Linked DNA regions of Homo sapiens. The protein of the gene in region 1 binds, or shares a complex with, the protein of each later gene. Each region holds a gene or a part of one and is shown in the gene's direction. Other genes may lie near its edges. The genes, in order: FRAT1 and GSK3B.

Region 1 (16,932 bases):
ATTTCTGGGCCTTGGTTTTCTTATCCATGAAAAGGAATAATAATACCAAATTCAGAGGTTTTTGGAAGACTAACTGAAATAATATCCTTAAAGCAATTTTCAGGGTACCAGGAATAAAATAAATATCCAATGTAGCTAGTGGGTACAAAGTTTCTTCTAGGAGTGATGCAAATGTTCTAAAATTAGATTATGGTTACACAACTCTGTAAATATCTAAAAACCATTCAGTTGTATACTTTTTTCTGTGTGTGAGATGGTGTCTCGCTCTGTTGCCCATGATGGAGTGCAGTGGCGCAATCTCAGCTCACTGCAACCTCCGCCTCCCGGGTTCAAGTGATTCTCCTGTCTCACCCTCCCGAGTAGCTGGGACTACAGGCATGCACCACCATGCCCGGCTAATTTTTGTATTTTTAGAAATGTTTGTTTTTTGTGTTTTTTGTGTTTTTTTGAGAGAGTCTCGCTCTGTCGCCCAAACTGGAGTGCAGTGGTACGATCTCAGCTCACTACAACCTCTGCCTCCCGGGTTCAAGCAATTCTCCTGCCTCAGCCTACTGAGTAGCTGGGATTACAGGTGCACACCACCACGCCTGGCTAATTTTTGCATTTTTAGTACAGATGGGGTTTCACCATGTGGGTCAGGCTGGTCTCGAACTCCTGACCTCGTGATCCACCTGCCTCGGCCTCCCAAAGTGCTGGGATTACAGGCGTGAGTCACCACGCCCAGCCAAAAAAAGTTTGTTTTTTTTTTTGTTCAAATGATCCTTTATTGAAATATTTTGTTTTGTGCTTCTTCACTAGCTGGGCATATTCCACAACACCACTGTTGATGTCATCTGTGATGTCATGAGGGTGGCGACCATCAACATTATGGCCCACAGATTAGGGAGTCCCCAGGATTTTTTTTTTTTTTTTTTTTTTTTGAGACGGAGTCTTGCTCTGTCACCCAGGCTGGAGTGCAGTGGTGCGATCTGGGCTCACTGCAAGCTCCGCCTCCCCAGGTTCATGCCATTCTCCTGCCTCAGCCTCCCTTCAGCCTCCCCAGCAGCTGGGACTACAGGTGCAAGCCGCTACACCCGGCTAATTTTTTTGTATTTTTAGTAGAGATGGGGTTTCACCATGTTAGCCAGGATGGTCTCAATCTCCTGACCTCGTGATCCGCCCGCCTCGGCCTCCCAAAGTGCTGGGATTACAGGCGTGAGTCACCGTGCCCGTCCCCCAGGATTTCTTCAATGGTTCCAGAGAGTTCTCTGGCTAAAGATTGGTGACGCCTCTGTCAAACAATGTTGATGATCTCATCAAAAGTGATATTCCCACTGTGTTTAATGTGTTTCTGTTTCTTCTGTCTCTTGGTGGTTCCTTGAGAACTTTGATGATCAGGGCAGAGGCAGAAGGCACCACCTCAATCTGGGCCCGTCTGTTCTGAATGTTCAGTTTCACTGTAATCCCCAGGCCTTTCCAGTCACCTGTTGCCTTGGCAATGGCATCACCAACCTTTTTTAGAGACAGAACCAGGGGGCTGATCTTGGGGGCCAGTGAAGAAGTGGCACCAACTTCATCCCCGGTGCACCTCAGGTATACGACTTTAATCTTGTTGGGGTCGAACTTCGGCGGCATGGTGGAGGCGGCTGGTATTGGATGAACCTGGATTCAGGACGACCAAAGAAAGTTGCACCTTGGCCTCTTCTGAGCCAAAAGCTGAAAGCAAAAAATGTGTTTTTAAAAACAAACAAACAGGGCCAGGCACGGTGGCTCACGCCTGTAATCCCAGCACTTTGGGAGGCCAAGGCAGGCAGATCACCTGAGGTCAAGTGTTGAAGACCAGCCTGGCCAATATGATGAAACCTCATCTCTACTAAAAATACAAAAAGTTAGCTGGGTGTGGTGGTGCACCTGTGGGAGAATGGCTGGAACCTGGGAGGCGGAGGTTGCAGTGAGCCGAGATCGGGCCACTGAACTCCAGCCTGGGCAATGAGAGCAAAAACTCCATCTCAAAAAAAAAAGATCCAGAGGTAGGCAGTCCAGGACCATGTCTGGGGCCTTCAAAAGATCCAGGCAACAAAATAAAAGAAAAAGAGACAGGCTTGCCCCCTTCCTCACAGGGTTACTTTCCAAAGGTATCACATAATATGGCCCATTTGGCCAGGCGCGGTGGCTCACGCTTGTAATCCCAGCACTTTGGGAGGCCGAGGCAGGCAGATAATCTGAAGTCAGGAGTTAGAGACCAGCCTGACCAATATGGAGAAACCCCGTCTCTATTAAAAATACAAAATTAGCCGGTCATGGTGGCAGCATGCCTGTAATCCTAGCTACTTGGGAGGCTGAGGCAGGAGAATCGCTTGAACCCGGGAGGCAGAGGTTGTGGAGAGCCGAGATTGAGCCATTGCACTCCAGCCTGGGCAACAAGAGCGAAACTCTGTCTCAAAAAATATATATATATATTTATATACATACATAGCCCACTTATATTTCATTGACCAGAACTTAATCACATGGCCCCATTTGGCTGCAAGAGAAGATGACAAATGACCCCTTGTCTTCCCATCTCTTTGTTCTTTTGCAGGGGATAGAGATGGGTTCTTATGGTTCTGGTACAGCTACAATTTGGGGTTTATTAAAGAGGAGAGTGGTTATTGGGAGGCAAACAGCAGCCTCTGCTATAGCTACTACTTGTGTAAAATGGAGGCAGACTATAAATAAATAAACTATCTTTGAAAAGACACACAACACATGTAGTATAGTTTGCCTTTTGACTTTTGAACTATGTGGCTGTAGTGTCTACTCAAATAAGTAAAACTAGAATTAAAAAAAAATACTGCAGGCTAGCAACATGGTGAGACTTTGTCTCTACAAAAAATACAAAAATTATCCAGGCATGGTGGTGAGTGCCTATAGTCCCAGCTACTGGTGGGAGGATCACTGGAGCCTGGGAGGTTGAGGCTGCAGTGAGCCATGACTTAGCCACTGCATTCCAGCCTGGGTGACAGAGTGAGACTGGTCTTAAAAAAAAAATACTGAATGATGATACCCAACCATGTGTCTCCTGACTTACAGCTCTGTCGATACCACAGCTGTCCCAGGCATCCATATGGACACCATGCTTCTGCGGATCTAAGACTGCCTCCTCTGCAGTGAGCCAAGATGGCGCCACTGCACTCTAGCCTGGGTGACAGAGCAAGACTCTGCCTCAAAAAAAAAGGAAGAAAAAAAGACTGCCTCCTCCAGACACCTACAAGCAATCATGCGGCAAGTTTGAGCATCTACTTTTCCATTCCCATTGTCACCCAGGTAGCAAGGATGGCACAGTCCCAGAAATGGGAGAACTTACTGCTTCAGCCTACATGGAGTCATCATCATGGTCCCTGAGACTTGGTCCTAACATGGCCGTCTTTTACCTATGATCAACATACCATGAGGGGGCCGGGCACGGTGGTTCATACCTATTATCCCAGCACTGTGGGAGGATGGGCTGAGCAGAACACTTGAGCCCAGGACTTCAAGACCAGACCGGACAACATGACGAAACCCTGTCTCTACAAAAAAAATCACAAAAATTAGCCAGGTGTGGTGGTGCACACCTGTGGTTACAGCTACTTGGGAGGCTAAGGTGGGAGGATTGTTTGAGCACAGGTGGTGGAGGCTACAGTGAGCCATGATTGTGCCATTGCACACCAGCCTAAGCAACAGAGTGAGACCCTGTCTCAAAAAAATGTATATATATATATATATATGCATACACACACACACACACACACACACACACACACACACACACACCCCATGAGAGATTTATTGACCCCTTGTCTTCCCATCTCCTCGTTCTTTTGCAGGGGATAGAGATGGGGTCTTGCTGTGTTGGCTGGTCTCCAACTCTTGGGCTCAAGTGATACCCCGGCCTCAGCCTCCCAAAGTGTTGGGATTACAGGCATGAGCCCCGTGCTTGGCCTATTCACACTTGATTCCTGTTGTAATGGTAGATCTTGCTGGGTCTGTCATGACCCAACATCCATCACAGAGGTTCTCAATCACTGAGCTGCCAGCCTGAGCTGTAACCATAAAAAAATAATCTCATGCTTCTCTGTCCTTGGTGTTTCTTGGTTTGTGGCAACATGCTTGACATGGTGTTCTCCTCATGTGTCTGTGTCCAAATTTCCTTCTTTTTGTAAGGATACCAGTCCCCTCATTAGGTCCCACCCTAATCCAGTATGTCCTCATTTTAGTTTGATTACATCTGCACAGACGCTATTTCCAAATAAGGTTATACTCACAGGTTCTGGGTAGATAGAAATTTAGGGGAAGCTACTCAACCCGGTACACTATTCCAGCCTCCAACCTGAGGGGTGCATCCCTCTGAACTATCTCCCTAACCTAGAGACCTTTCTCCTTTTATAAATGACAAAATATCCTCAGGCAATGCTGTGTTAAAAATACTTTAAAAAGGCCGGGTGCAGTGGCTCACGCCTATAATTCCTGCACTTTGAGAGGCCAAGGCGGGCGGGTCACTTGAGGTTAAGAGTTCGAGAACAGCCTGGCCAACATGGTGAAACCCCGTCTCTACTAAAAATACAAAAATGAGCCAGGCATGGTGGCGGGTGCCTGTAATCCCAGCTACTCAGGAGGCTGAGGCAGGAGAATCGCTTGGAGTCCGGAGGCGGAGGCTGCAGTGAGCCGAGATTGCACCAGATAGCAAAACATTCTACACTGCTCCATCAGTGTTAGCTCTGAAGCCATCTAGTCATTTTAACTACTGGCTTCCAGACCCAACTGTTCTAACTCCCACCCCCACTCCCCACTGTCTAACCAGTGGTTTATCTTTCCTGCCCAGTCAGCAGCTTCAGGACATTTTTAACTTTTGCCTTCCATGGCTTCCTCAGCTGCTAATCTACTGAGATACGTTTATTTTATTTTATTTTTTGAGGTGGAGTGTCACTCTGTCACCCAGGCTAGAGTGCTGTGGCACAGTCTCGGCTCACTGCAACCTCTACCTCCTGGTTTCAAGTGATTCTCCTGCCTCAGCCTCCCAAGTAGCTGGGAATACAGTGGCCTGCCACCACACCCAGCTAATGTTTTTTTCTTTTTTTTTTTTTTTAGTAGAGATGGGATTTCACCATGTTGGCCAGGCTGGTCTCGAACTCCTGACCTCAGGTGATCCGCCCCCCTCAGCCTCCCAAACTGCTGTGATTACAGATGTAAGCCACTGCACCTGGCCTACTGAGAGGTGTTTAATATCTCATCCTCATCTCTTAGCATCTCAGTTTGAGTCCCGTAACCTCTCTCTCTTTTTTTTTGAGATGGAGTTTCACTCTTGTTGCCCAGGCTGGCGCCCAAGGGCATGATCTCGGCTCACTGCAACCTCCACCTCCCAGGTTCAAGCGATTCTCCTGCCTCAGCCTCCCAAGTAGCTGGGATTGCAGGTGCCCACCACCATGCCCAGCTAATTTTGTGTGTGTGTGTGTGTGTGTGTGTGTGTGTGTTGTTGTTTTTTTTTTTTAAATTTGAGACAGAGTCTCACTCTGTCACCAGGCTGGAGTGCAGTGGCACGATCTCAGCTCACTGCAACCTCTGCCTCCCAGGTTCAAGCCATTCTCCTGCCTCAGCCTCCCAAGTACTTGGTACTACAGGAGCATGTCACCACACCCGGCTATTTTTTTTTTTTTTGTACTTTTAGTAGAGATGGGGTTTCACTGTGTCAGCCAGGATGGTGTCAATCTCCTGACTTCGTGATCCGCCTGCCTCGGCCTCCCAAAGTGCTGGGATTACAGGCGTGAACCACCACGCCCAGACCCCCTTTTCTTTTTTTAGACAGTCTCACTCTGTCGCCAGGCTGGAGTGCAGTGGCGTGATCTCAGCTCACTGCAACCTCCGCCTTCCTCCCAGGTTCAAGCGATTCTCCTGCCTCAGCCTCCAGAGTAGCTAGGACTACAGGTGTGCGCCACCACACCCAGTTAATTTTTGTATTTTTAGTAGAGATGGGATTTCACCATGTTAGCCAGGATGGTCTCGATCTCTTGACCTCATGATCCACCCACCTCGGCCTACCAAAGTGCTGGGATTACAGGCCTGAGCCACTGCACCCAGCCAATTTCCCCTTTTCTATGGCTTATTGTTTCTAACACTTTATTGTAAAATTTTTCAAACAGCCAACAAAATTGAAAGAATACCCTGTTACCCAACACCTAGATCCTAGTATTTTAAAAATTGAGATATATTTCACATAACATAAAATTCAACATTTTAAAGTGTACACTTCAATAGTTTTTAGTACTGTATATTCATTATGTTGTACAAACATCACCACTAATTTCAAAACATTTTTATAACCCCAAAAAGAAAACTCTTACCCATTAGCTGTTAGTCCTAATTCCCCCCTTCTCCCATCCCCTGGCAACCACTAATCTACCTTCTGTTTCTATGGATTTGTCTATTCTGGACGTTTCATATAAATAGAATTACACAATATGTTGCCTTTCCTGTCTGATTTGTTCACTCAGCATAATGTTTTCAACATTCATTCCTTTTGTAGCATGTATCAGTACTTCATTCCTTTTTATGGTGAATAATACTCCATCGTATGAGTATACGACATTTGATTCATCCATTTATCAGCTGATGAACATCTGAGTTGTTTGCACTTTTTGACTATCATGAATAATGCTGCTATCAACATTTGTGTACACGTTTTTATGTGAACATATGTTTTCAATTTTCTCTGGTATATAGCTAAAAGTAGAATGGATGGGTCATATGGTAACATTAACATATTACTATACATGTTTTATCACATATCTACCTGTCTAACTATCCTTCTAATCCATCTATATTAATCCTTCTCACATTTTACTGTACTTTGGAATAAATTGCAAACATCAGTACACCTCACTCCAAACTCATCAGCATGTCTATTACTATAATTCAAGCTTTCTTTACAATTTATTCTCTTCATGTAAAATCTACAATTTTTTTCTCTTTGTTTTTTTGTTTTGTTTTGTTTTGTTTTTGTTTTTTGTTTTTTTGAGACAGGGTCTCACTCTACTGCCCAGGCTGGAGTGCAGTGGCACAATCTTGGCTTACTGCAACCTCTGCCTCTCGGGCTCAAGCAATTCTCCTGCCTCAATCTCCTGAGTAGCTGGGACTACAGGCATGAGCCACCATGCCCTGCTACTTGTTGTATTTTTAGTAGAGACGGGGTTTCACCATGTTGACCAGACTGGTCTCAAACTCCTGACCTCAGCTGATCTGCCCACCTCAGCCTCTCAAAGCGTTGGGATTACAGGCGTGAGCCACCGCGCCCAGCCCACTCAATGAGTTTTAACACATGCCTAAACCTATGAAACCCAAATCAAGATATCAAGATTTAGAACATGTCCACCCTCCTGCAAGTTCCCTCTGTCTGTTCAGTGTCACAGTGTCAGTCCTGCCCCTGCTCTACCTTTTCCAAAGGCAACCAGTCTTCTGATGTTTTCCCCACCGTAAGTTACTTTCCCTGTTCTAGAACTTCATATAAACAGAAACATATGACATATATCCGTTTTTATCTGGCTTCTTTCACTTAGCATACTGTTTTTAAGCTTCATTCATGTTACTGCATGCAGCAATATTCAGTCCTTTCTGTTGCTGAACTGTTTTCTGTCATCATCCTGTGTGAATGTACAATAGGTTGTTTGTCCATTCACCTGTTGATGAACACTTGGGCCATTTCACTTTTGGCTTTTATGAATAAAACTCCTTTGATGTGAGCCAACATCGTGCCACTGCACTCCAGCCTGGGCAAAAGAGGGAGACCCTGTCTCAATTAAAAAGAAAAAAAAATATGCTATGATCACCTCCCTGTAGGCCTTGATGTGGGCCCATGTGTTTATTTCTCTTAGCTAAGTATCCAGGATTGAAACTGTGTTCCAGGACAGGTGTATGTTTCATTTTATAAGAAACTGTCAGGCCTTTTTCCAAGGTGGTTGTACCATTTTTCATGCCCACAACAATATATGAGGCTTATAAGTTGTGAGCCAAAGATAAAAATGCACAAATTGTAAACTGCTACTAATTATTTTCATTTGAAAATTTTAAGTAGGCCGGGTCTGGTGGCTCATGCCTGTAAATCCCAGCACTTTGGGAGGTCGAGGCAGGCGGATCACCTGAAGTCAGGAGTTCAAGACCAGCCTGGCCAACATGGTGAAACCCCATCTCTACTAAAAATACAAAAATTAGCCAGGCATGGTGGTGCACGCCTGCAGTGTCAGCTACTTAGCAGGCTGAGGCAGGAGAACTGCTTGAACCCGGGAGGCAGAGGTTGCAGTGAGCGAAGATTGTGCCACTGCACTCCAGCCTGGACAACAGAGCAAGACTCCATCACAACAACAATAACAACAACAACAACAACAACAACAAATGCCCAACAAACCAGGAATAGAAGGGAACATTCTTAACCTGATAAATACTATCTATGAAAAATCCACAGCTAACATCCTACCTAATGTTGTGAAAGACTGAATGTTTTCATCTAAGATCAGGAATAAGACAGGGCCAGGTGCTGTGGCTCATGCCTGTAATCTTAGCACTTTAGGAAGCTGGGGTGGGCGGATCGTTTGAGCTCAGGAGTTCAAGACCTGCCCGAGCAACATGGTGAGACCCCCTGGGTCTACAAAAAATACAAAAATTAGCCAGGCATGGTGGCTTGCACCTGTAGTCCCAGCTACTCAGGAGGCTGAGATAGGAGGATCAACTGAGCCTGGGGAAGTCAAGGCTGCAGTGAGCAGAGATCATGCCACTGCACTCCAGCCTGGGCCACAGAATGAGACCCTGTCTCAAAAAAAAAAAAAAAGAAAAAAAGAAAAGAAAAAAGAAAAAGAAGAGAAGCAAAACTATCTCTATTTGTAGATGACACGATCTTCTATATAGAAAATCCTAAGGAATCCACAAAAACAAGGTGATGAACCTTATGACACCCTGTAGAAATCCAGATTTCGTAGATTAGAAATCCAATGGCTTTGTTTAAACTGTCTCTTCCTCTGTTTTTACATTTTTTCCTCCACACTTGACAAAAACAAACCCAACTCTTTTTAAACCAACTTCCCTACCTCTTTCCTGCACTCATCCCTTCCTAAAGGTTTGCTCCTATAATTATTATCGTTGGAACTGCCCAACAAGACCCTCGTTTTCTATTTATCTGGATCTCCAGGCTCATTTCTTTCTTTGTATCCTATTTTCTATATCATGCTCAGAATTTTAAAGTTGCTTCCAGGCTGGGCGCGGTGGCTCATGTCTGTAACGCCAGCATTTCGGGAGGAGGGATTGCTTGAGTCCAGGAGTTTGAGACCGGACGGGCCAACATGGCGAAACCCTGTATCCACTAAAAATACAAAAATTAGCCAGGTGTAGTGGCGCGTGCCTATTGTCCCAGCTACTCGGGAGGCTGAGGTGGGAGGATCACCTGATCCTGGGAAGTCAAGGCTGCAATCAGCCAGATCACACCACTGCACTCCAGCCTGGGTGACAGAGTGAAATTCTGTCAAAGAAAGAAAAGAAAGAGAAAGAAAAGGAAGAAAGGAAGGAAGGAAGCGTATCTCCATTTTCATCCAAACAGGTATTTTTCTCTGCTACTACGTACCTCCTCAGAGCCCATCCCCCCTACTGGTCTGAGGCTTTTTTTTAAACAACTTTCTGGACATAGCCCCTCTTAAGACTAACAACCTATAGCCAGGCGTGGTGGCTCACGCTTGTAATCCCAGGATTTTGGGAGGCCGAGGCAGGTGGATCACCTGAGGTCGGGAGTACCAGACCAGCCTGACCAATATGGAGAAACCCCATCTCTGCTAAAAACACAAAATTAGGCTGGGCATGGCGGCGCATGCCTGTAATCCCAGCAACTCGGGAGGCTGAGGCAGGAGAACTGCTTGAACCCAGGAGGCGGAAGTTGTGGTGAGCGGAGATTGCGCCATTGTACTCCAGCCTGGGCAACAAGAGCGAAACTCTGTCTCAAAAAAACAAAACAAAACAAAAAGAGTAGCAACCTAGGCCGGGCGCAGTGGCTCACGCCTGTAATCCCAGCACTTTGGGAGGCTGAGGCGGGTGGATCACCTGAGGTCAGGAGTTCGAGACCAGCCTGGCCAACATGGTGAAACCCCGTCTCTACTAAAAATACAAAAATTAGCCGGGCGTGGTGGTGGGCGCCTGTAATCCCAGCTACTCGGAAGGCTGAGGCAGGAGAATTGCTTAAACGCAGGAGGCGGAGGTTGTAGTGAGTGGAGATCGAGCCACTGCACTCCAGCCTGGGCGATAGAGCGAGACTCCGTCTCAAAAAAACAAACAAACAAATAAACAAAAAGACTAGCAACCTCCTCTCCAGCAATGCCAACCCCAGTCCAGGCCCCCATCCGCCCAGGATCTCGATCAAAAAACATTAATCTGTGGCCTTTCTTTGCCATTTCCAACTCTGCCACCTCCATCGAACGACAAGGTCCCCTTCTTCCTTTCCATTCCCGTCAGCTTCATTTCCCTAATCTCCGTACAAATCCCTAGCCTGACTCCCTTTCCTTTCCATCCTCACCAGACGCCCGCATGCCGGACCTCAAAAGCGCAAACGCTAAAAACCGGTTGAGTTGACGCACGGAGAGAAGGGGTGTGTGGGTGGGTGGGTGTGTGTTAGTGTGCGTGCTTGCTTGTGTGTGGAAGAAACCAACAGGGTTCACGCTGGTGCCCATTTCTGGAAATGCCAATCGCGCCCGACTGCGGGAGCCAGGATCAGGTCCCCAGGGCGCCCTTGCAGACAGCACCCTGAGCGAAGGAGCTCAGAAGGCAGTCCGGCTTCACCCAGACCCCCAATCCCACAGAAGCGCCGTCCCCCAGCGGCACAGCACCCCCTCCCCGGCGCGGTGGTAGGGCCCGACGTGACGTCACCCATTGTTTACAAATCAACCCGAGCCGGCAGGATTCCGGCTCCCGCGGCTGCAGGCGCGCGGCTAGAGTGCCTGGCGGGCTCCGGCTTCCGCGTCCGCCCCGGCCCCGGTCCAGACTTAGTCTTCAGCTCCGCGCCCGCTCCGCCGCGGCCCACCGCGCCCGCCGGCAGCCGAGCCCCCAGCGACGCCCGCACAGCTCCGGGTGCCCAGACAGGGGGCCATGCCGTGCCGGAGGGAGGAGGAAGAGGAAGCCGGCGAGGAGGCGGAGGGGGAGGAAGAGGAGGAGGACAGCTTCCTCCTACTGCAGCAGTCAGTGGCGCTGGGCAGCTCGGGCGAGGTGGACCGGCTGGTGGCCCAGATCGGCGAGACGCTGCAGCTGGACGCGGCGCAGCACAGCCCGGCCTCGCCGTGCGGGCCCCCGGGGGCGCCGCTGCGGGCCCCGGGGCCCCTGGCTGCGGCGGTGCCGGCGGACAAGGCCAGGTCCCCGGCGGTGCCGCTGCTGCTGCCGCCCGCGTTGGCGGAGACTGTGGGCCCGGCGCCCCCTGGGGTCCTGCGCTGCGCCCTGGGGGACCGCGGCCGCGTGCGGGGCCGCGCTGCGCCCTACTGCGTGGCCGAGCTCGCCACAGGCCCCAGCGCGCTGTCCCCACTGCCCCCTCAGGCCGACCTTGATGGGCCTCCGGGAGCTGGCAAGCAGGGCATCCCGCAGCCGCTGTCGGGTCCGTGCCGGCGAGGATGGCTCCGGGGCGCCGCCGCCTCCCGCCGCCTGCAGCAGCGACGCGGGTCCCAACCAGAAACCCGCACAGGCGACGACGACCCGCACCGGCTTCTGCAGCAGCTAGTGCTCTCTGGAAACCTCATCAAGGAGGCCGTGCGAAGGCTTCATTCGCGACGGCTGCAGTTACGTGCAAAGCTTCCCCAACGCCCGCTCCTGGGACCTCTGTCGGCCCCGGTGCATGAACCCCCTTCGCCTCGCAGCCCTCGCGCGGCCTGCAGTGACCCTGGCGCCTCCGGGAGGGCGCAGCTCAGAACTGGCGACGGCGTTCTTGTGCCTGGCAGCTAACACGCCCGGGGTGGCCACAGCGCCAGCCTCAGACTGGAGGGCAAGGGGTTCCCTTGAGGGCTGCAGTTCTACTCAGGCTGGTGGAGAACTCTGGCTTTTGGAAGCGAGAGTAAAAAGCTAATGACGAGGAACCGAAAAATCGCGAGTGTTTCGCGGGTAACTGGGGTTGAGGGCCAAAATATTTGGAATGAAGGACTTTGGCCCTATTTAAGGCAGATTTTACAGAGCGCACCTCAAACGTACAAGTCAGTAGGACTCCTTATTTGGCGTGACCCGACCTGGCCGCGGAGCCTGCATTTCCTCGCAGCCTCTCAGTGCCCTCCAGCCCCGCGACCATGTGGCCACAATCCACGCTTCTCCGGATCGCGGTGCGCCGGAACCACGGAGGATGATGCCAGTTACTTGCTTTACCTTTTCAGGGCTGGCTCCTGATCCACTTTGGGGGAGGAGAACATGAGTAGATAATTTCAGGGTGCAGCCCAATCTGCCAGACTTAAAAAAACCATCTTGTGTCTTTGGAGGTGCTGCTTAATACCAAACATGCGGTGCCATGAAGGGACCCTTTGGGGGTTGAATAGGAGTTAACCCCTGCGCTCTCTTTGCAACTGTCTCTCTTCTCAGAGTGGTGGGGGAAGGCTGTACGACACGGGTGGGGAAAGGAGGTGGGGGCGGGGAGTATTGAATGGTGGTGGAAGGGTAGAGAGGCGCGGAGTGAACCCCACGCCCTGTCTAAAGTGTATTTTCAGAGCCGGCCCGCCTCTCCTCGGTTCAAGGTCACTGTTTCCTGGGCACGCACTGGGTTGCGGGACAGAGTAGCCAGGTTCTGCCGGTGCTCGGAGAAGAGCGCAGTGTTTTGCAAGTGCTGGAGTCTCCTGAGGACACGCGCGTCGCCGCCACCGCGGGTGTGGGAAAGCGCGGACGTGCTGGGCGGCTGTGCTTCGGTAGGCGACCACCGCCCCTGGCCGCGCTCCGGGCTTTCACGGAAACTCCCGAGACCGGGCCCTGGGTTCCTCCTCTCCTACTCGGCTCTGCAGTCCTACTCAAGCGGGTGGCTCTGGGATCCTGGGGGCCTGGGTTGGGGGCTAGGGAGACGCCATGTGATGGACACTCCAGGGACACACAGCCTAGCACAGCAGCTTATAATGGGCTCTCCGGGGCCATTTGCAATAACAGCTGCAATTCCCTGGATAGACGAGTTGATTTCCTCCCTCTGCCCCTCCCCCAGCCATGCCAGCTGGCCTTTGTAAGTGCAGGAAACCGAGTAGAAAATGTGACCCTCCAAATGGAGAAGCTGCAGGCTTTGCCATTGTGAACCATGGTGAAGTGCTTGGAACATACTGTTCACTCACTCTAAAGGCGCTGAGACTGTGCTGTTGTTCTCGTTTTTATAGTCAATGGCTTGTTCATCATCCAGATGTGGCTACTGACATATCTACACTTCGCACCGGAGTGTCTGGAATTGTGGCTATCCTGATTATAGGATTTTAACTTAACTGAAATGCCTGCTTTGAATAAATGTGTTGGGTTTTTTGTTTGGTTTTATTTTATACTTGCCATCAGTGAAAAAGATGTACAGAACACATTTCTCTGATCTCCATAAACATGAAAACACTTGAAATCTCTGTCAGCCTGGCTTGTGGATGGTAATTAGAGCGCCTTTGTGTCTGAGCAGCTCACTAGCTAGACAAGGTCTCCGCAGCTGGGTGTGTATTGGAGCTGGCATGAAATTAAATGAAAGTGAGGTCAGGTTTTGGACCAATCCCATTCGTTAAAACCTCAGAGCCTTTTGGATTACTAGTCAGTGATGGAGATGTGTTATAAAGCTGCCTCTATTAGCAAAGGACATCAGATCAGCCAGTCACTGCAAACTGGGAGGCTTATCTTTTTTTTTTTCTTTTTCTTTTTTTCTTCTTTCTCACCGTGGCCATTAAGTGCACTTGTTCCACAAGGTGGGCCTTAAGGCTGGGGCAGCTCTTGATTAGGAGACTGCTCACAATGTGAGCCTGGTGGTAGGAAAGCTGGGTGGAAACTTACAAAAGACTCCTGTCTTTGCCCCTGGCACATTTATACCATTCTGTCCCTAAGCAGTGACATAACAGGCCATGTCTATCCTTATGGTTCTGACTTACTTCAGTCTGTTCCCTCATGGAAGGAGCTAATTTCCTCCCTCTGAGGAAAGAGTACCCAGAGTTTAAGCCCACTTCTGAAGTGGGAAGGGAACCTTGGACAAGTTGCTCTACCTCTGTGGCTTCAGTTTCCTCATCCGTACAACAGGGATAATGAAATAAAAGGTGGGCCAGGCCCAGTAGTTTACACCTGTAATCCTAGTAGCACTTTGGGAGGCTAAAGTGGAGGATTGCTGGAGCCCAGAAGTTCAAGACCAGCCAGGGCAACATAGTGAGACCTCACCTCTCCAAAAATAAATAGATAAATGGCCGGGCACAGTGGCTCATGCCTGCAATCCCAGCACTTTGGGAGGCCAAGAAGGGCTGATCACGAGGTCAGGAGTTCAAGACCAGCCTGACCAACATGGTGAAACCCCATCTCTACTAAAAATACAAAAATTAACTGGGCATGGTGGTGCATGCCCATAATCCCAGGTACTCAGGAGGCTGAGGCAGGAGAATCGCTTGAACCTGGGAGGCAGAGGTTGCAGTGAGCTGAGATCGCGCCACTGCACTCCAGCCTGGGCGACAGAGCGAGACTCTGTCTCAAATAAGATAAAATAAAATAAATAAATAAATGAGGCAAGAGGATTGCTTGAGCCTAGGAGTTTGAGGCTGTCGTAAGCCATGATTGAGCTACTGCACTCCCACCTGGGTGGCAGAGCAAGACCCTGCCTCAAAAAAATAAATTAATAAAAGGCATATGGTGACTGGCACATGCTGCAGATGAACAGTATCTAGTCCCTACCCCTTCCTTCCCAGGTGGCGGTGTCCCAGGTGTCCTCATTTTCCCACAAAACAAGAGCATGCCATGATCCCAAATCTGCTTTCTGGAGTGTTCTATGACTTCGAGTCCTGATTTTCTAACTTCCTTTTTGGTTCAATGCCCCATTTTCTCAAATTCACACACAGACGCTGATGGTCTCTGAGGAGTACCTTCAGAACACACCAAGCCTGCCATTTCCCACAACATGCCCAGAAAGGGCTGTGGGGGCCTCAGTCCAGTGTTCTCCAGCATGGGAAGGGTAACTATGGAGGCTCTAATACAAACTGAGGAAAAGGAGCCCCCAATAGTGTAGTGGGCACCACCTCTGGGCGCTGAGCATGAGGGGAAAGTGGCCAGGTGCTGATGTCCCCTGGCATGGGAGTAGCCCTGAAGTCCCCAGTTCCCATTCTTAGTTGATGTACGATTTATCCAAGGTCAAGGGGTTATGAGCAATCCAGGGCTTTCCATCCTGAAATAGGCTATGATTTGATGTCACTGCACCGACTGTGCATAGCTTCTTGTAATAAGAATGACTGGTTAAGTTCAGACTCAACCTTAGGGCCCATGCAGAACAACCCACTCCTAAAAAAGGAAAATTGGGAAAAACTAAAGCCTCTCTACATAAAGCAAGTTAGCACTCTAAACACATTATAATCCAGTAACCGTTCATCTGTGTTTTTATTTTTTATCTTATTTACTTATTTATTTTTGAGACAGAGTCTTGCTCTGTCACCCAGGCTGGAGTGCAATGGCGTGATCTCGGCCCACTGCAAGCTCCACCTCCTGGGTTCAAGTGATTCTCCCGCCTCAGTCTCCTGAGTAGCTGGGACTACAGGCACCCGCCATCACGCCCAGCTAATTTTTGTATATTTGTAGAGGCGGAGTTTCCCCATGTTACCCAGGCTGGTCTGGAACTCCTAACCTCAGGTGATCCGCCTGCCTCGGCCTCCCAAAGTGCTGGGATTTTAGGCGTGAGCCACCGCATCCGGCCTGTTTTTTTTTTTTTTTTTTTTTTCAAATCCTGCCAAGTTTTTTCTTTTTTTTTAGACGAAGTCTCGCTCTGTCACCCAGGCTGGAGTGCAGTGGCATGATCTCGGCTTACTGCAACCTCCACCTCCTGGGGTCACACCATTCTCCTGCCTCAGCCTCTGGAATAGCTGGGACTACAGGTGCCCGCCACCATGCCCGGCTAATTTTTTGTATTTTTAGTAGAGATGGGGTTTCACCGCGTTAGCCAGGATGGTCTCGATCTCCTGACCTCCTGATCCGCCCGCCTCGGCCTCCCAAAGTGCTGGGATTACAGGCATGAGCCACCGCACCCAGCCAAATCCTGCCAAGTTTTACTATTCACCCCAAAATACTTTTTTTGGGATAAGTCAGGATTTACATAAAGTGTGGGGTTTTTTGTTTGTTTGTTTGTTTGTGACGGGGTCTCAGTCAGTCACCCAGGAGTGCAACGGTGAGATCTCAGCTCACTGCAACCTCCACCTCCTGGACTCAAGTGATTCTCCCATCTCTTGAGTAATTGGACTACAGGTGCGTGCCACCATGCCTGGATAATTTTAAAATTTTTTATAAAGACAAGGTTTTGCCATGTTGCCCAGGCTGTTCTCAAACTCTTGGGCTCAAGCAATCCACCTGCCTCAGCCTCCCAAAGTGCTGGGATTACAAGTGTGAGCCACCTCGCCCAGCCAGGATTTACATAAAGTATTTTAAAAGTCATATTGGGGCAGACGTGGTGGCTCATGCCTGTAATCCTAGGACTCTGGGAGGTCGAGGCAGGTGGATCACCTGAGGTCAAGAGTTCAAGACCAGCGTGGCCAAAATGGGGAACCCTCGTCTCTACTAAAAATACAAAAGTTAGCTGGACGTGGTGGTGGGCATCTGTAATCCCAGCTACTAGGAGGCTGAGCCAGGAAAATCGCTTGAACCCAGGAGGTGGAGCGTGCAGTGAGCTGAGATCTCACCGTTGCACTCCAGCCTGGGCAAAAAAGAGCAAAACCTCTGTCTCAAAAAAAAAAAAAAAAAAAAAGTCATATTAGACCATTTTAT
Region 2 (15,947 bases), on another chromosome or scaffold:
TCCTTTCTTTCTCCCCCTTGTGGGAAAAGGGATGATTTTTCTTTTTTTTTTTTTTCTTTTTTTTTTTTCTTATGTAACCACAGCGCTTTCAGAGGCCAGATCTATTGGCTCTGGGCATTATTCTTTGGGGACATCGATCCCTTTTATCTGAAAAGATAAAAACAGTGTCTGGAATTGATGAGTTATGAGTTGATCTCCTTCACGTAGTCATTCTACATAGTTTTATTGTAATCCTATTGTATGAAAAATGTTAGATTGTGAGAGCGATATAAAAGTAGTAAATGCAAGTAACTCTTGCCTTCATGAACCTCATCATCTGATAAGGACTTGTTTGGCATACATGTTACCAGAATGGCAACTGCATTTCTTTATAATTGCCTTTCACTTTTTCTGGGAGAGTTGAGTATTTTCTATGAGTAATACACAGGTTAAAAACTGAGCACCTTTGCTTTTCTGATGAGTATATTTCAGAACTTAAGTAGGTTTTAAAATGCAACTCTAAAACAGATGACTGGCAAATCATTGTTGTGAACTTAATTTTTTTTTAATTGAAAATACATGTTTAAGGACAGGGTCTGATCACACAAGAGAGTTGGATGCATTTTTTGAATCATGAACAAAATTGTTATTACTTGTTTTAACATGTATTCTATTGTTTTATTATTTTATTACTTCAGATATTATGGCACAGAGAAGAGGGCATTGGATTTGAGTTAAATATAACTAACTGTTCAAATTGTGCTCAACTGCAAAATACATTCCTTTCTGTGATATTTTGTCCTGTAACTGAAGCATAGTAATTGTTTTATGGAAATGTTAACAGTTTTGTACCAACTTTGAATAAAATGAAAAATAAAAAAAATTGTTTTCATTGAACCTCAATATCTTCTGTAAAAACAGGGATAATGTGTATCTCAGAGTGGTTGCAAGAATTAACTAAACAAATAGGCAAATAGGCAGAAATGCTTTTCTTGGTTTGGCACTTAGTATATGTTAAATCTGTTATATTTTAAAGTGTGTTAATTATATTTGAGTTTCTAAGAATTAATCATTCTAGTCTTTTATTTAGCCACCAAACTGCTTTTTTTTTGTTTTGTTTTGTTTTTGTTTTTTTGAGAGAGAGAGAATTCCGCTCTGTGGCCCAGGCTGGAGTGCAGTGGTGCATTCTGGGTTCACTGCAACCTCTATCTCCCGGGTCCAAGCAATTCTCCTGCCCCAGCCTTCCGAGCTGGGATTACAGGCGTGCACCACCAAGACCGGCTAATTTTTTGCATTTTAGTAGAGACGGGGTTTCACCATGTTGCCCCCAGGGTGGTCTCGAACTCCTGAGCTCAGGCAACCCGCCTGCCTTGGTCTCCCAAAGTGCTAGGGTTATAGGTGTGAGCCACCGCGCCCGGCCTCCACCAAGCTATTTAATGATTATATTTTACACCTTTATTTAATAAAATATGGCAAAATACATAAATAGTAATTGAAAGAGAAGCACTTACTCAAACCACTACAGAATATTGTGTGTGTGTGATATTGAGCAAGTTGCTTAATCTCTCTGGGCCTCAGTTATTTTATATTTAAAATGGTAATAATATTAGTACTTATTACATAAGGTTATTATAAGGAGTAAGTGAAATAATACACATAAAGCAGTTAGAACAGTGCCCAGCCCATGATAAGTTGTTTTTCTGTTCTTGTTTTTGCTATCATTCTAGTCTAGAAAGCCTCTCAGCTTTCTTATAAATACACTTTTACAAAGTGAAATAACAACAAATATATAATATTGCATATTTCATTCTTTATCTTGACTTTTCTAGATAAACTTTTCAAAACAATGAAGATAGAGTAGATCTTTCAGATGAAAGAATACAGTAAAAAGACATCTTAAAATTAACCTCATTTAAACGATTAAGCTTTTTTTTTTTAAAAAAAAAAAAGAAAACTCGTTTTCACTGATTCTTGCAGACCTAGACATCAATACCCTGACACAGTAAAATCTCTTTTTTTAGTAAATTTATGCCTATGAACTCAGTTTCTTATGGGAGGTTATCTTTTTAGTGGTAATGAATTAAACTCCTACAGTAAGCTTTAGGACTTAGAAATGGATTCTGTGAATGATGGTACAATAATAGAACTATGAAGTTTTTAAAAAATGTTACATGGATACCTAAATGCCTTAATTTTAACTTTGTTGGCAAAATGCTGACCTTATAAAAGATCTTATCTGTACAGTTTACATCTTGCTTCATTTTAAAGAAAACATAAACTTTTCCAGCTAATAGTTCACATTAACTTCAAGGATGTACTAAAATTCAGCTGTCTGCAGTTTTCACCATGCTTCTTAGAATGAAAGTAGGTTTCATGTTAACTTTAATTAACCTAAGCCTTAGCAGTAGCTTTTAAAGATGGTGCCATATGTCAATGCTTCATTAGACTTTTAAGTATCTTTTTTTTTAATTGTTTTTTTACCAAGATATTTATTATCTTTGGTTTGACTCATTTCAAAAATTCTGTCCATGGTGTAACTTTGGGGTAGAGGTCAGAAGGTAAACAGCCAGAAAAGTTTAAAAGTGAATCAGAACACTGACCTTGAGATAAACAGAAGGTTTAAATTATACTCTCTTCGTCCATGAAGTTTCTCTCTCCTCCAGTCAAGAGTCTGATTCTTTACTCCATGCAGACCCAGTTTCTCAGTGTATCTTTTTGGTAAGAAAACTGAGAAAGTCTTCTCTTTTGAAAGATGATGTCAATAGTCAGGCATCTGTTTTTGAATGTCATTTTGAATTATACTTTTTCTGAAGGATATTAACAGGAAGAATGGTGATGCTACTAACAGGGTTATTGATGTCTTGATAGAGCAGTGATTACAGATTTTCTCAGTCCACATGAGTTTTCCTAGACCACTGTATCAATCACCTTGGAGGCTGACATCTCAGAAGAATATTCTAAAGATCACACTTTGGAAATACGTTTACATTCAGCAGCATGCTCTACTAGAAAGAACTATAAACTTAAAAATCAGGAGACCTGGTTTCTGGCCCAAAGTTACTGATTATTCATGATTTGGGGTGCCTCTCTGAGCTTTTCATTTGTGTTTTAAATAAAAGCCCATCTTAGCAGGCTTGTAATGTGAGATGTTAGTAAAATTAAAAGTTATAAAGCACATTGTAAAATTTTCTTCTTTTGAGTTATTAAAGAATGAAGCGAATAGTACATATGGTTAATGACAGTTTAGCTAATTCATATAGAAATAGCTAATTAATACAGAAGTGACACAAAACTTGTGAAAGGAAGATTGAGTGCCAGTAATCCATAGCATTTCACCTGTTCTTTTCTGAGAATCTGTTACTTTATTGACTGCTTAAGGATTCTGATTTGTTTAGAATAGGAAGTATTTAATTAATTTCTACTATCTATTCCAGTTGTATATGTATCAGCTGTTCCGAAGTTTAGCCTATATCCATTCCTTTGGAATCTGCCATCGGGATATTAAACCGCAGAACCTCTTGTTGGATCCTGATACTGCTGTATTAAAACTCTGTGACTTTGGAAGGTAAGCTACTGTCCCTCTCCCTGCCCCTTCCCTTTTCCCCTCCTCCCCCTACTATCTTCTTTTAAATATATTCCTTTTGCAATATCAGCCTAAACACAGTAATTCTTATTCAAGAAGTATAAACTAGTGCAGCTGTGAGAGTAGTTTTGTTAGTTTCTGTCAAAATTATAAATGTATATACTCCTTCATTTAACAGTTTAACTTTTAGGAATTATTTCCTTAGGAATACATATTTACAATACAGTGTATATATAGGGATTTTTATTATAGCATTGTTTATAAGCATCCATTAGTAGGAAAATGGCTAAATAAATTACGGTACATGCAGAGTAATACATGCAACCATGAAAAAGAATGAGGCAACTCTCTGTGAACTGAAAGGGAATGATGTCTAGGAAACATTAAATGAAGAAAGCAAGATCAAGAGTATATGTATTGTATGCCACCTTTTATGTTTTAAAAACATACAGAATGTGACTATATATATATATATGTACACACACACATATATACACAAGTACATGTGTGGCTTATTTCTGAAATGGTACGTAATCCATAATATTTGATTGCCTGAGAAAGGATCTTTGGGAATATAATGTAGTTGGGAAACTCACTTTTTCATTGATTGTATTTTAGTATTGTTTGAATTTACATTAGGTATATATACTCCTTTTTCAGTAAGAACTAAATTTTTTCAAAATATTGATTATTATACATTCCTGTGTATCTTTTTAACTTCACAATTAACCTCAATTCAGGGATGAGATAAAAAACAATGCAGTGTTTTCTTCATTTTCCTCTATAATTTAACCTTTTATTCCACCCTTTTTCCTGCAAATTTCATCAAACTTTCTGCTTTTAAAAGCTCATTTCTTGGTAATATACTGTGAATTTGTAATACAACTTTATTCTTTCCATTTTCAGTTTTCAGTACTTTGTGCCTCTCTGATCTAACCTTTTAACATGTAGTCAAGCCTACATTCCCATGTAACTCAGGCAGTTACCCCGCTACTTCCTCACTGGTGTAATCACCTAATCTCTCTCCTCATGGTCCCTAAGACATCTTTACATAATTTGGATTCTCTCCAATTTAATTTTTTCACCCTTGTTACAGATTCTTTTCACCATAGCTCTATAGATAACATATTGCCCCACACTTGTTAATACCTGTGTTCCTATCCCTTTGTAATACTTTTACATCAATTCACAGTTTAAATTTGGGGTTTAACATAGGATATGTTTTCCACAGGCTTCTCTTGAGACAGATCCTTTAAAAAATAAGTAAATCTGTTCTGTCATGAGTTAATTTTTCTTAGTCTCACAATGTGTCCTCTTTCAGACTGTCCTCATTTTACTGTTTTCTAATTTCAGATGACCTATCACTTTGCAGGCCATGACTCTGTTCCCTGAACTATTTTTAAAAAGGGTGAAAGATAGTAAAACTCTTACCTGGTGTTTGAAACAAAGCACTACTACTTGTCTATAGGAAAAACTGCCCAAATCAGATATGTTTTATTGTTAATGGGGTGTCTTCACCATTGAGAGTGACTGACTTGGTAGGGACAGACTGAGACACCAAGGTTAGAAGAGCTTCTGTTCTCATATAGTGTCAAAACACTTGGTACAGCCCATTCTCTTGGGACATAAAATAGCTTTATTCTGATAAATTTGGAAGAGGGATTTCGCTTGTTTGATAGCTCATTTTTATAAACCCTCTGATTTTTTTGTTTTTAACAAAATTGGTTTGGTCAGATGGAGTTTGGGAAACACTTTGGACTGTACATTATCAGATTGGTAATTTGAACAAAATACTATTACTTTCTTCTTATTTTTTTACTAGATGAAAAGGGGCCAAAAAGTAGCTAAAGAACTAGTTGGGCTATTTAGGAACAAAAAGCTAGATGTGATCACAATATTGGGAAGTAGTTAAAACCAGTCTCCTCTGTAAGAGAGGCTGCTCCGTTTTTGTAGCTCCATCAGGTAGTGAAAAAACTTCAGGCTACAAAGCTTGGGTATTAACGTTTTGTCTCGTAATGAATTTTCTGAACATAATTAGCATCTATCTTGTTAATTAAAAAGCATCCTTTAGAAGATATAACAGTCTCCTATCAATTATGCTGAAAACTAAATGTCATAATTTTCATGCAGCCTAAAAACAGGGATTAGTATTTATTAATTTATGAAATGGTTATTGTATGTCAGTACTTGGGGAGAGGGTTAAAAAACAAACTTCAAAACTAGTGATGAAGGAAAAAGAAGTTAAGGTTAGAGTCATCATTGACTAGAAATAAATGGAAGAAAAGAAATCCCAGTCATTGAAATCCTTGTGACTACTTTCATCTGTCTTTACCCTGGTTTTCCAGTACCTTTACTTTTTTTTTTTGGCACTTACTGTTTTACTGTTTTGATTTTGTTGCATTTTGTCCCTTTATTTATCTTTATTATTAATGTATGTCAGAATGGCTGGCTTCTACAGCAGTTTATTTTATTCTGTCTTTGGATTATCTTGGGCGACATCTCAAAAGAAATTAATTGTAATTTATTATACTTCATATTTAAAATACATGCAATGAAGTATTTTAGTAGGAAAATTGGAATAAGAAAACATGCAATTATACTTACTATAGCAGAGTTAGAATTTATAGGCAGTGAATCATTTCTGCCCTGAAGTTGAAGGGCCTGTTTATAATTTATTGGGTAATAAATGTTTATGTGGTTAATAAATTGACCAAGATATGGAAAAATAGATTGAGTCTATAAGCCTTGAAATATTCGCCGTGAGTCAGAAGTCAAAATGCAAGACAGTGGCCAGTTTCTCACCCTTTTTAAAGAAATACATTGGGTGAGGAGTATTCATTCTTAGAATCCATTGTCATGCTTTTTGGTGGGGGAGGTACCTCTTTTCTGCCCTTGCTTCTTTGTATTTTAGAGGTGGAATTTGGGGAACAGAGGATCAGAAGAAATTCAACACTTATCCTTTTTTGCTTTTGGTGCCTTCTTAGGTGACAAACGCTTTCTTTAAAAATTGCTATTCTTTTTTGCAGAGCAAGGTGATAAAATTGTAAATTTCTTTTATTAGAGATAGTTACAGTTTACATTTTCTTTTTCATATATGATTCAAATGATGTGAATCTTATAAAATCATTTGATACTGTGAAAGGATAGCAGTCTAAGTTCTTTAAGGTTTAGATTTAAAGAATTTCTGCTTTTTATTTTTATTTTTTTTCTGTTAGTGCAAAGCAGCTGGTCCGAGGAGAACCCAATGTTTCGTATATCTGTTCTCGGTACTATAGGGCACCAGAGTTGATCTTTGGAGCCACTGATTATACCTCTAGTATAGGTAAGTACAAATCTGAATATAATGCTCATAATTATTAATTGCTTCTTGATTTTGGTAATTTAGTACTACTAATCTGTACTTTTATTTCCATGGAAAGATGGATATATCCCATAATGTTTTTTTTCTTAAAGCTTGAGATGCAAACATGTATAGGCATACCTCATTTTATTATACTTTCCAGGCACTGCTTTTTTTTTTTTAACCTCTCAAAGGTTTGTGTCAACCCTGAGTCAAGCAAGTCTGCCCACACTAGTTTTATAAGAGCATGTGCTCACTTCATGTCTTTGTGTCATCATGTCTTTGTGTCACATTTTGGTAATTATTGCAACATTTCAAACATTCTCATTGTATCTGCTATGGTGATCTATGATCAGTGGTCTTTGATGTTACTATTGTAATTGTTTTGGTTTGCCACAAACCACAACAATATAAGACAGCAAACTTAATCGATCGGTGTTGTGTATGTTATGAATATTCCACCAGCTGGCCATTCCCCATCTCTCTTCCTATCCTCAGGCCTCCCTATTCCCTGAGAGACAACAATATTGAAATTAGGCCAATTAATAACTCTGCAGTTGCCTCTAAGTGTTCAAGTGAAAGGTACATTTTTCACTTTTAATCAAAAGCTAGAAATGATTAAGCTGAGCAAGGAAGGCATATCGAAATTGTGCCACACAGTTAGCCAAGTTGTGACCAGAAAGGAAAAGTTCTTAAAGGAAATTAAAGTGCTACTCCAATGAACAGATGAATGATAAGAAAGTGAAACAGCCTTATTGCTGTTACAGGGAAAGTTTTAGTGGTTTGGATAGATCAAACCAACCACAACATTCACTTGAGCCAAAGCCTAACCCAGCAAGGCCTGAACTCCCTTCAATTCTGTGAAGACAGAGAGGTGAGGAAGCTACACAAGAAAAATCTGAAGGTAGCAGAGGTTATTTCATGAGGATTAAGGGTAAAAAGCTGCACCATGCCATAAAAGTGCAAGGCAAGCAGCAAGTGCTGATGTAGAAGCTGCAGCAAGTTATCCAGAAGATCTAACTAAGATCATCGATGAAGGTGGCTACATTAAACATCAGAGTTTTAATGGAGACCAAATAGCCTTCTACTGAATTGGAAGAAGATACCGTTTAGGACTTTCATCTCTAGATTTTCTAGAGATGGAAGACTTCTTCTAGAGAGGAGAAGTGTCATTGCCTGGCTTCAAAGCTTCTAAGGACAGGTTGACTCTCTTGTGAGGGCCTAATGTAGCTGGTGACTTTTAAGTGCAAGCCACTGCTCATTTACCATTCCAGAAATCCTAGGGCCCTTAAGAATGATGCTGAATGTATTCTGCCTGTGCTGCATAAATGGAGCAACAATGAGTGGATGATAGCACATCTGTTTATAGCATGGTTCACTGAATATTTGAAGCCCACTGCTGAGACCTACTACTCCAGAGAAGAGTATTTCTTTCAAAATATTACTGCTTATGGACAGTGCAACTGGTCACCCAAAGGTTGAGAAATACATTTGTAAGGCTATAGCTGCCCTAGATAGTGATTAGTCTGATGGATCTGGGCAAAGTCAATTTTAAATCTTCTGGAAAGGATTCACCATTCTAGGTGTCACTAAGAACATTTGTGACTCAATCACATGAACAACATTTTGGAAGAAGTTGATTCCAAGCCTCATGGGTGACCTTGAGGCATTCTAGACTTCAGTGAAGGAAGTCTCTGCAGATGTTGTGGAACTAGCAAGAGAACTAGAATTAGAAGTGGAGCCTGAAGATGTGACTGAACTGCTGCAATCTCATGATGAAACATAAACAAGTTGCTTCTTTTATGGATGAGCAAAGAAAGTGGTTTCTTGAGGTGGAATCTACTAGTGGTTAAGACGCTGTGAATATTGTTGAAATGACAACAAAGGATTTAGAATATTACATAATTGTAGTTGATAAAGCAGCAGCAGGGGTTGAGAGGACTGACTCCCATTTTGAAAGTGGTTCTAATGTGGGTAAAATGCTATCAAAGAGCATCTCCTACTAGAGAAAAATCTTTCATGAAGGGAAGAGTCAGTTGATGTGGCAAACTTCATTGTCACTTTAAGAAATTACTCCAGCCACATCGTATAGCCTTCAGCAACTGCCACCCTGATCAGTCAGCAGCCATCGACATCAAGGCAAGACCCTCTGCCAGCAAAAAGATTACAACTCACTGAAGGCTTAGATGATCATTAGCATTTTTTTTTAGTAATAAAGTGTGTTTAAGTTAATGTATTACATTTATGTTTTTATACAATTCTATTATACAAGTAATAGACTACAGTATAGAGTGAACATACCTTTTATATGCACTGGGATACCAGAAAATTGGTGAGACTTGCTTTATTGTGTCTTATTGTTATGGTCTGGAACCAGTTCTGCAACATCTCTGACGTATGCCTGTATAGAATTTTTCAAATTCTACTTTTTAGAATTTAAGGTATACCTACTATTCTATTTTTCTTCCTTGGACTGTTAGAATCATAAAGCTAATAGCTTTTACCTTAAGAATTTAAATTAATTCTAAGTAACTTTTTTTTACTTTCTTATTTAAAATCCTCCTGAAATACTTCTGAGCATGATTATACTAGTTGGATAATTTATTAATTAATGTTATTTCATTAAGTTAATAATGAAAGTGATAGTATGGCCATATTGCTAACATTTCCTTCATGCCATCTCCATTATTTAATATAAAATCAGCTTAAATCACTAGTAGTTTTGCTAGATGCACTGATTCTGCAGAAGTATGCACCCAAGATGTTTAGTCATAGAAGGAACTGAATAGAGACCATTAGCTTTAATCATCATTGACCTTCTCAAGTCTTCACCCCAGATGTTTAGTGATAGGAGGAACTGAATAGAGACCATTAGCTTTAATCATCATTGACCTTCTCAAGTCTTCACCCCAGATGTTTAGTGATAGGAGGAACTGAATAGAGACCATTAGCTTTAATCATCATTGACCTTCTCAAGTCTTCACCCAAGATGTTTAGTGATAGAAGGAACTGAATAGAGACCATTAGCTTTAATCATCATTGACCTTCTCAAGTCGTCACCCAAGATGTTTAGTGATAGAAGGAACTGAATAGAGACCATTAGCTTTAATCATTATTGACCTTCTCTTTTACTACATCTTAGCCCACTAGCCAGGAGTGAACAGAGAGAGCATGATCAGCTGGACATGAATAGGAAGCTAACAAACAAGGAGCAACTTTAAGCTGGATGTGCAAGTGGAAACCAAAATTATTTTACTCTTACATATTGTTTCTGAAGAGAATTCCTTTAGTCCAGAAACAAACAAAAGCATGCAAATAATAAACCAAAAACATCCCCACAGTAACAGAAAACCAAAACAAACAAAAAACAGACCTGGCCTGGTGCAGTGGCTCACACCTGTAATCCCAGCACTTTGGGAGGCTGAGGTGGGCAGATCACTTGAACTCAGGAGTTCGAGACCAGCCTGGGCAACATGGTGAAAACCTGTCACTACCAAAAATTAGCCGGGCGTGGTGACATGCCCCTGTAGTCCCCGCTACTTGGGAGGATGAGGTGGGAGGATGGCTTGAGGCCAGGAGGCAGAGGTTGCAGTGAGCTGAGACTCCACCACTGCACTCCAGCTCGGTGACAGAATGAGACCCCCCCTCTCAAAACAACAACAGCAACAACAAAAAATAGAACAGACCTTGTGACAGTTTTTTTGTCTTTTTGATATAAATAGAAATTCTCTGATACAAGCAAACACCCTAATCAGAAACACATTATCATTTTTTATTTTGCCAAATGGCAAAATGCCAAAGCACATTTTGATTTCTGCCAAGAGGCCAGCAGTTTTACCCACCATTTCCTTTGTACCCTCAGTACAAATGTTAACCCAGTGAAGGTGTATTCTTATGAAAAGAGTTTTGCCCTCTGGGACATCTAGAAATGTCTAGAGGACCCAGGTGCAAAGAGTACAAAGTGTCCTCTGTAGACCACACTTTGACATCTGCTTTACCAGAGGGTAGAGAGCATAATAATGTGTATATGTATGTGTATGTAATTCTCAGAGTCTTAGTATGGCTGTGGTACATGGCATATATGAATGGACAGATGAAAAATAGTACAAAGAATATTTTGCTTGTGGTCGACCTGGGTTTGAGTGTCAGGTCACTTGAAGTAAAGTGGAGATTACTGACAGTTCTTTTCTGAGTGGCTGTGAGGCTTAAATAAAATGTTAGTGAAAATACTGTAGAAATGAAAGGTGGTATTCTTTTGTGGCATTTTTAGACTTGACTCTCCCCAAGAGCAAATTTCAGCCCCTTGTCTTTGGGTATGTCATTGGATTTTCCAGCTGCTTTACATTTTATTCAAATATATGATACTGATTATCTGTATATAAGATACTGGTGTGAGCTGTGCCAGAAACACCTAAAATAAAGGCAGTTTGATTGTTCTCAAAAAGTTAACACATCATCTCACACATTAAGGAACAGTTATATAAACAGGAGTCTTTTGAACCCTAGCAAGCCTAGGTTTGGCTTCCCATTATAAACTTAGGATACTTGCCTCTTAAGACTGTAATGTTTTTAAACAGACCCTCCCAAAAAGTATACTAATATTGTTACATTTTTAAATGTTTTTAACAGTAATGTTTGAAATGAAAGAGTAACTGTTTCTGACAAGATTATTGTCATATTTAGATACAGCCAGAGGTAAAGCTGATGTCTCTGATTATATTATCTTACTGACAAATGGCAGAATGAGAACAAAAGGCTTCCTTAGAACAAGGAATTGAACTTACAGACAGACCCTTGAAGAAGCTGTTATTCTGTGACAGTGAGACAGTTATTCAAGAGAGTGGTGTTTTGATTGGGAATTGAGAATGATTCCAGGCCTAGCTCTACTATTCAGTACCTTTACCTTGGGCAAGTCGTTTAACTTTATCATGTCTTAATTTCCTTATCTATGAAATAAGTGTGTTAAACTAGATGGTCTTGAAAGATCACTTTAACATGAACCCGAGTTAAATATGAAACAAAATGCTATTCTGGCTTTAACCCCAACTAACTAAAATTCAGTGTGCCAAAGCACTATTTCTATTTTTCCGGTACCTTCTATTTAGTTGAAGTTTTATTCTATCTGGAGAATTTCATCCATTTGTCCTTTGAAGTAAGAGCAGAAGAGATTTTAGTGTCCTCCAGAAAGTGATTGATAAGTACCTTGTTTTTACTAACTTGACTGATGTAACATGAATTGAGGGCTGCTAGTATAGTTGTCACCTGAATCTTTTGAGTGTCAGTCTTCTGTGATAACTTCTAGGCAAGAGTATTCCTTGATGTTTTACTTTTTGTCTTCCATATTTGTAGCTAAATCTTACCTAAGAAAGTGTTTCCTATTGTTTTTTATGAAGGCATAATTATTCCCTTACAATTTTTTCAGCCTTGTATCTGAGATGAATCATTCCGTATTAGAGAGGAAAAAAGTTGAGTGCATATTACCTTCCATCTTATTAACTAGGTAAAGGGATGTTTTAAAACTTAGATTAAAATAAGCATTTACATAAATAAGGAGATACATCTTTTCCGCTTGACTATAACAGTTAGTATTACTATTGGCTTTGAGTAAAGATTCCCTAACAAGTTTTCATATGTGCTTAATTTAGCAATTTCCTAATATATTAAATAGGACTCTTGGTCTATATTTGCAGAATAGATGTCTTGGTTATTAAGTTAGGACTGGACAAAATCAACTCGAGTTTGTTAAATGATACTATGTCATTTTTCTAGGTCAATAAAAAGTAGTCACTGGAGCAACGATTTCCAGTCTCTCTTGATAGTACATCTCACCACATCAGACCTTTAAAATTTTTTGTTGTCAACCATTTACTGTTCCTTCTTCTCCTTCCGTACTGGTAGGTGGTAAAGTCCAGCAATGATTCATATTCGTCTCCCTAAAGCACTTGAGTGTTGGTACATTAAAAACCTAGGAATCTCAGAAATCTGGAAGCTAAAAAGCAGCCTTTTCTTGTAGGAAGTCTTAATAGCGGGCTTTAAAATAGAGTGACCGTACGGTTTATCTTCTAATCCGATAATACTTTTGAGAGAGAAAGAGGTGTTACTAATAATTATCCCAGGACAACATATAAACCATAACTATCCTGGGTAAACCAGGATGTATACTTTAAAGTATTTTTAAAGTGTATTAATTGAGTTAATTTTTAGAGTTTTCTCTCCGGATTGAGGTTTTCATTTTGACTTAAAAGTGGATTATTTTTATAATTTATGAAGTAAAATGTATTCCTCCATCATTGCTATTCCATTTTATTTAAAAATGATATATTTAAGCACATTTTTCTGTCAGTCATCGTAGAACATAAAAATCAACCATTTAAAGTCTTAAAAGTGTTCCTCAGAATTTGCACTGACTTAAAGCCCAGTGTCTGGGAGAGATTGAACCTTTCCTTGCTGCTCCTCTGTAAGTACCTACTAATATGCAGACGTTGTGTCACTTTGACTTATTTTTAAGTAAGATAAATAGATAGTCCTGCCATAGCTTTGGTACTGTAATCCTCTGTCTAGTTATTTGAAGACTTGAATACCTGAAATTTGATAATAATAGACTTTACCCTTTATTAGAATATTCTTATTGGTCTGGTTTCCTCTTTGGTAAGTTTAACATTTAATTAAAAAGTACATTAAGGAAGTTTGATGACTTTTTCTCTGTTTTGGATTGTATAATCTTTTCCTGTGATATTTACTCTGTGATCAAAGTAAAATTAGAAAACGTATACAAACACTTTTCAGCTCAAGCTATGAAGTATTAATAAGGCTTCGTTTTCTTTTCTCTTTAGATGTATGGTCTGCTGGCTGTGTGTTGGCTGAGCTGTTACTAGGACAACCAATATTTCCAGGGGATAGTGGTGTGGATCAGTTGGTAGAAATAATCAAGGTGAGAAGGTTGAATCAGAATATTTGAACTGGAAGGAATTTTTGTGCTACTTTAATAATATATATCACACATGTACACATACGAGAAACTTAAAAAATGGAGGAAGCAATCCAAGGTCACGTAGCAAGTTCAGCTATAAAGTGGGTATAAGAACGCCCCCCCAGCCTTTTGGTTTTTATTTGAGTTACTCTTCTCTTGTATGATCCTAGAAAAGCTATTATGTATATCTGATGCAAGAAAGGTATATATCTGTTATTTAAAGTACTTAAAAGCAAAATTAGACTATAAGCTCACTAAAATGTATGTAAGCTGAATAAAAGCAGAAGCTGTGTCTGCTTTTGCTCACTGTATACTCCCTGCTCCTAATACTCTGTGGAGCACATAGGAGATACTTGTATTTGGTCACTATTTATATTTATTCAGTATTTATAAAATGAAAGAATGAATGCCTACCTGTCTGGCTAGATCATTGATAGAAACAAAATTTTGACTTATGGATTTAATATAATTTTATTTATTGGGTCTATATGAATTTAATATAATTTTATTTATTTTAAATTTTATTTAAAGCTGAATAAAGATATGTCTGGTTTTGCTCAGACACAGCTTCTGCTTTCATTCAGCTTTGCATACATACACCTTTATTAACAAATATTTAAATATTATCTTAGAATATATGTTTTCTTTTAAGAACAGTAGAGCTGAGATTTTAATTGAGTTTTTAAATGTAATTTTTTTAAGTTTTAAATATTTGAGATCTTAAAGGAAGTCCCTTTACTTAAAAAAAAAAAAAAAACCTAGTGTCTAGATTTATATCACTAGATTGTTTCATTCTAAGGTTTCAGTTTGGACAAAGCAACAACACCTACTGTCTCTGGGGCTTTGTTTGTGATATCCCAAATTTTGCATAGAATTGTAAAATTGAAAAATCTCCTTAGAGGTCATGTTGTCCAATGTACAATAAAATAACCTTTTAGTTACATTCCTAACAAATGGTTTTCTAGTATTTTCTTGAACACTTCCAGCATCAGATTACTACTTAGGGATGCAGCTTATTCTGTATTGGACAGCTTGAATTTAGTTTTTATTGTACTGAGCTGTAACTCCTCAGTAGCTTCTACCAGTTGAACATAGGACTGTGATCAAGTTCTTTTCAAATCCTTGTACTTCATTCTATAAAAATAGGAATTTTAAAAATCAAAGGTGGTTTTGCTAGATGTCAGTGTGTGCAAGTATGGTTGAAAAGACTAGTGTGTAATAAGCGATCTTCTTTATTATCCATATAATTTCTTACAATTTGCAGCTTAGACCACTGTGGTATTTGCATCTTCTTTTTGGTACCATTTTTGAGTTTCCTATCTAATCTTTTACACTTGTTAACAGAACTATTTTCTTTTTCATTTCTGTGCTACACTTAGATGTAAATTTGAATAGTTTGCTTTCTTTATTTTCTAAAAGCCTACCCCATCATGTAAATTAATGCTTGAATACGGAGCTTGGCCAACTTTTTCTGTAAAGGACTAGATAAAATATTTTAGGCTTTGTGGGCCAAAAGGCAAAATCGAGGATATCATATAGGTACTTCAGTAACAAAAGAGAAAACACATTTTCACAAATTTTTTTATTGATGAAGTTAGAGGTATAATAATTGAGTCTTTTTTTTATTTTTATTTTTAAATACAGCTCTACTAACCAGAAGAATTGAGTTCTTTTTGGGGAAATATAACCTTTCTCTTAATTGATGTTCAAAGTTAGTACTTTCTAATCATCAAATTGATGGCAAATCTGTTAATTCTTAGCTTATGGGCTTCACACAGACAATGGGCTGTAGTTTCCTGGTCTCTGCTCTTACACAACCATTCAGCATTTCTCCTGTCCCTAGGCTTTTATTTGACGTACTTGAGCTCACCATCACCATGCTACAATTCTGTGGGCATATTAGCTATTCTATTTGTCATATATGTTTAGCTCATTACAATTGTATCATTTCTCTACTGATTATATTTTAGAATTTTGTGGCGATTTGTCATTAATTTTAATTCATACATAATGCAAGTAGAATTTCTGAGGAAGCTAAGTGAGCATCTGTGATAATTCCCTATCTCATGCTTGCC

Evidence for each region.
Region 2: the proteins of FRAT1 (region 1) and GSK3B are in contact, whole or in part, in a crystal structure (PDB 5OY4), measured with the Homo sapiens proteins. Residues at the interface, in NP_005470.2 of Homo sapiens: His200 (codon at 11,707), Leu202 (codon at 11,713), Leu203 (codon at 11,716), Leu206 (codon at 11,725), Val207 (codon at 11,728), Ser209 (codon at 11,734), Gly210 (codon at 11,737), Asn211 (codon at 11,740), Leu212 (codon at 11,743), Ile213 (codon at 11,746), Lys214 (codon at 11,749), Glu215 (codon at 11,752), Ala216 (codon at 11,755), Val217 (codon at 11,758), Arg219 (codon at 11,764), Leu220 (codon at 11,767), His221 (codon at 11,770); in NP_001139628.1 of Homo sapiens: Tyr216 (codon at 6,815), Ile228 (codon at 6,851), Phe229 (codon at 6,854), Ser261, Gly262, Val263, Asp264, Leu266, Val267, Ile270, Lys271, Thr275, Pro276, Ile281, Tyr288, Thr289, Glu290, Phe291, Lys292, Phe293, Pro294, Ile296.

The regions. Positions count from the first base shown.
Region 1 is NC_000010.11:97,308,345-97,325,276, forward strand, and holds FRAT1 (proto-oncogene FRAT1), read left to right. Parts: upstream 1-10,926; 5' UTR 10,927-11,109; coding exon 11,110-11,949; 3' UTR 11,950-13,571; downstream 13,572-16,932. UniProt on the Homo sapiens protein: Positively regulates the Wnt signaling pathway by stabilizing beta-catenin through the association with GSK-3. May play a role in tumor progression and collaborate with PIM1 and MYC in lymphomagenesis.
Region 2 is NC_000003.12:119,903,641-119,919,587, reverse strand, and holds part of GSK3B (glycogen synthase kinase-3 beta), read left to right. Parts: intron 1-3,413; coding exon 3,414-3,544; intron 3,545-6,777; coding exon 6,778-6,884; intron 6,885-13,735; coding exon 13,736-13,833; intron 13,834-15,947. UniProt on the Homo sapiens protein: Constitutively active protein kinase that acts as a negative regulator in the hormonal control of glucose homeostasis, Wnt signaling and regulation of transcription factors and microtubules, by phosphorylating and inactivating glycogen synthase (GYS1 or GYS2), EIF2B, CTNNB1/beta-catenin, APC, AXIN1, DPYSL2/CRMP2, JUN, NFATC1/NFATC, MAPT/TAU and MACF1.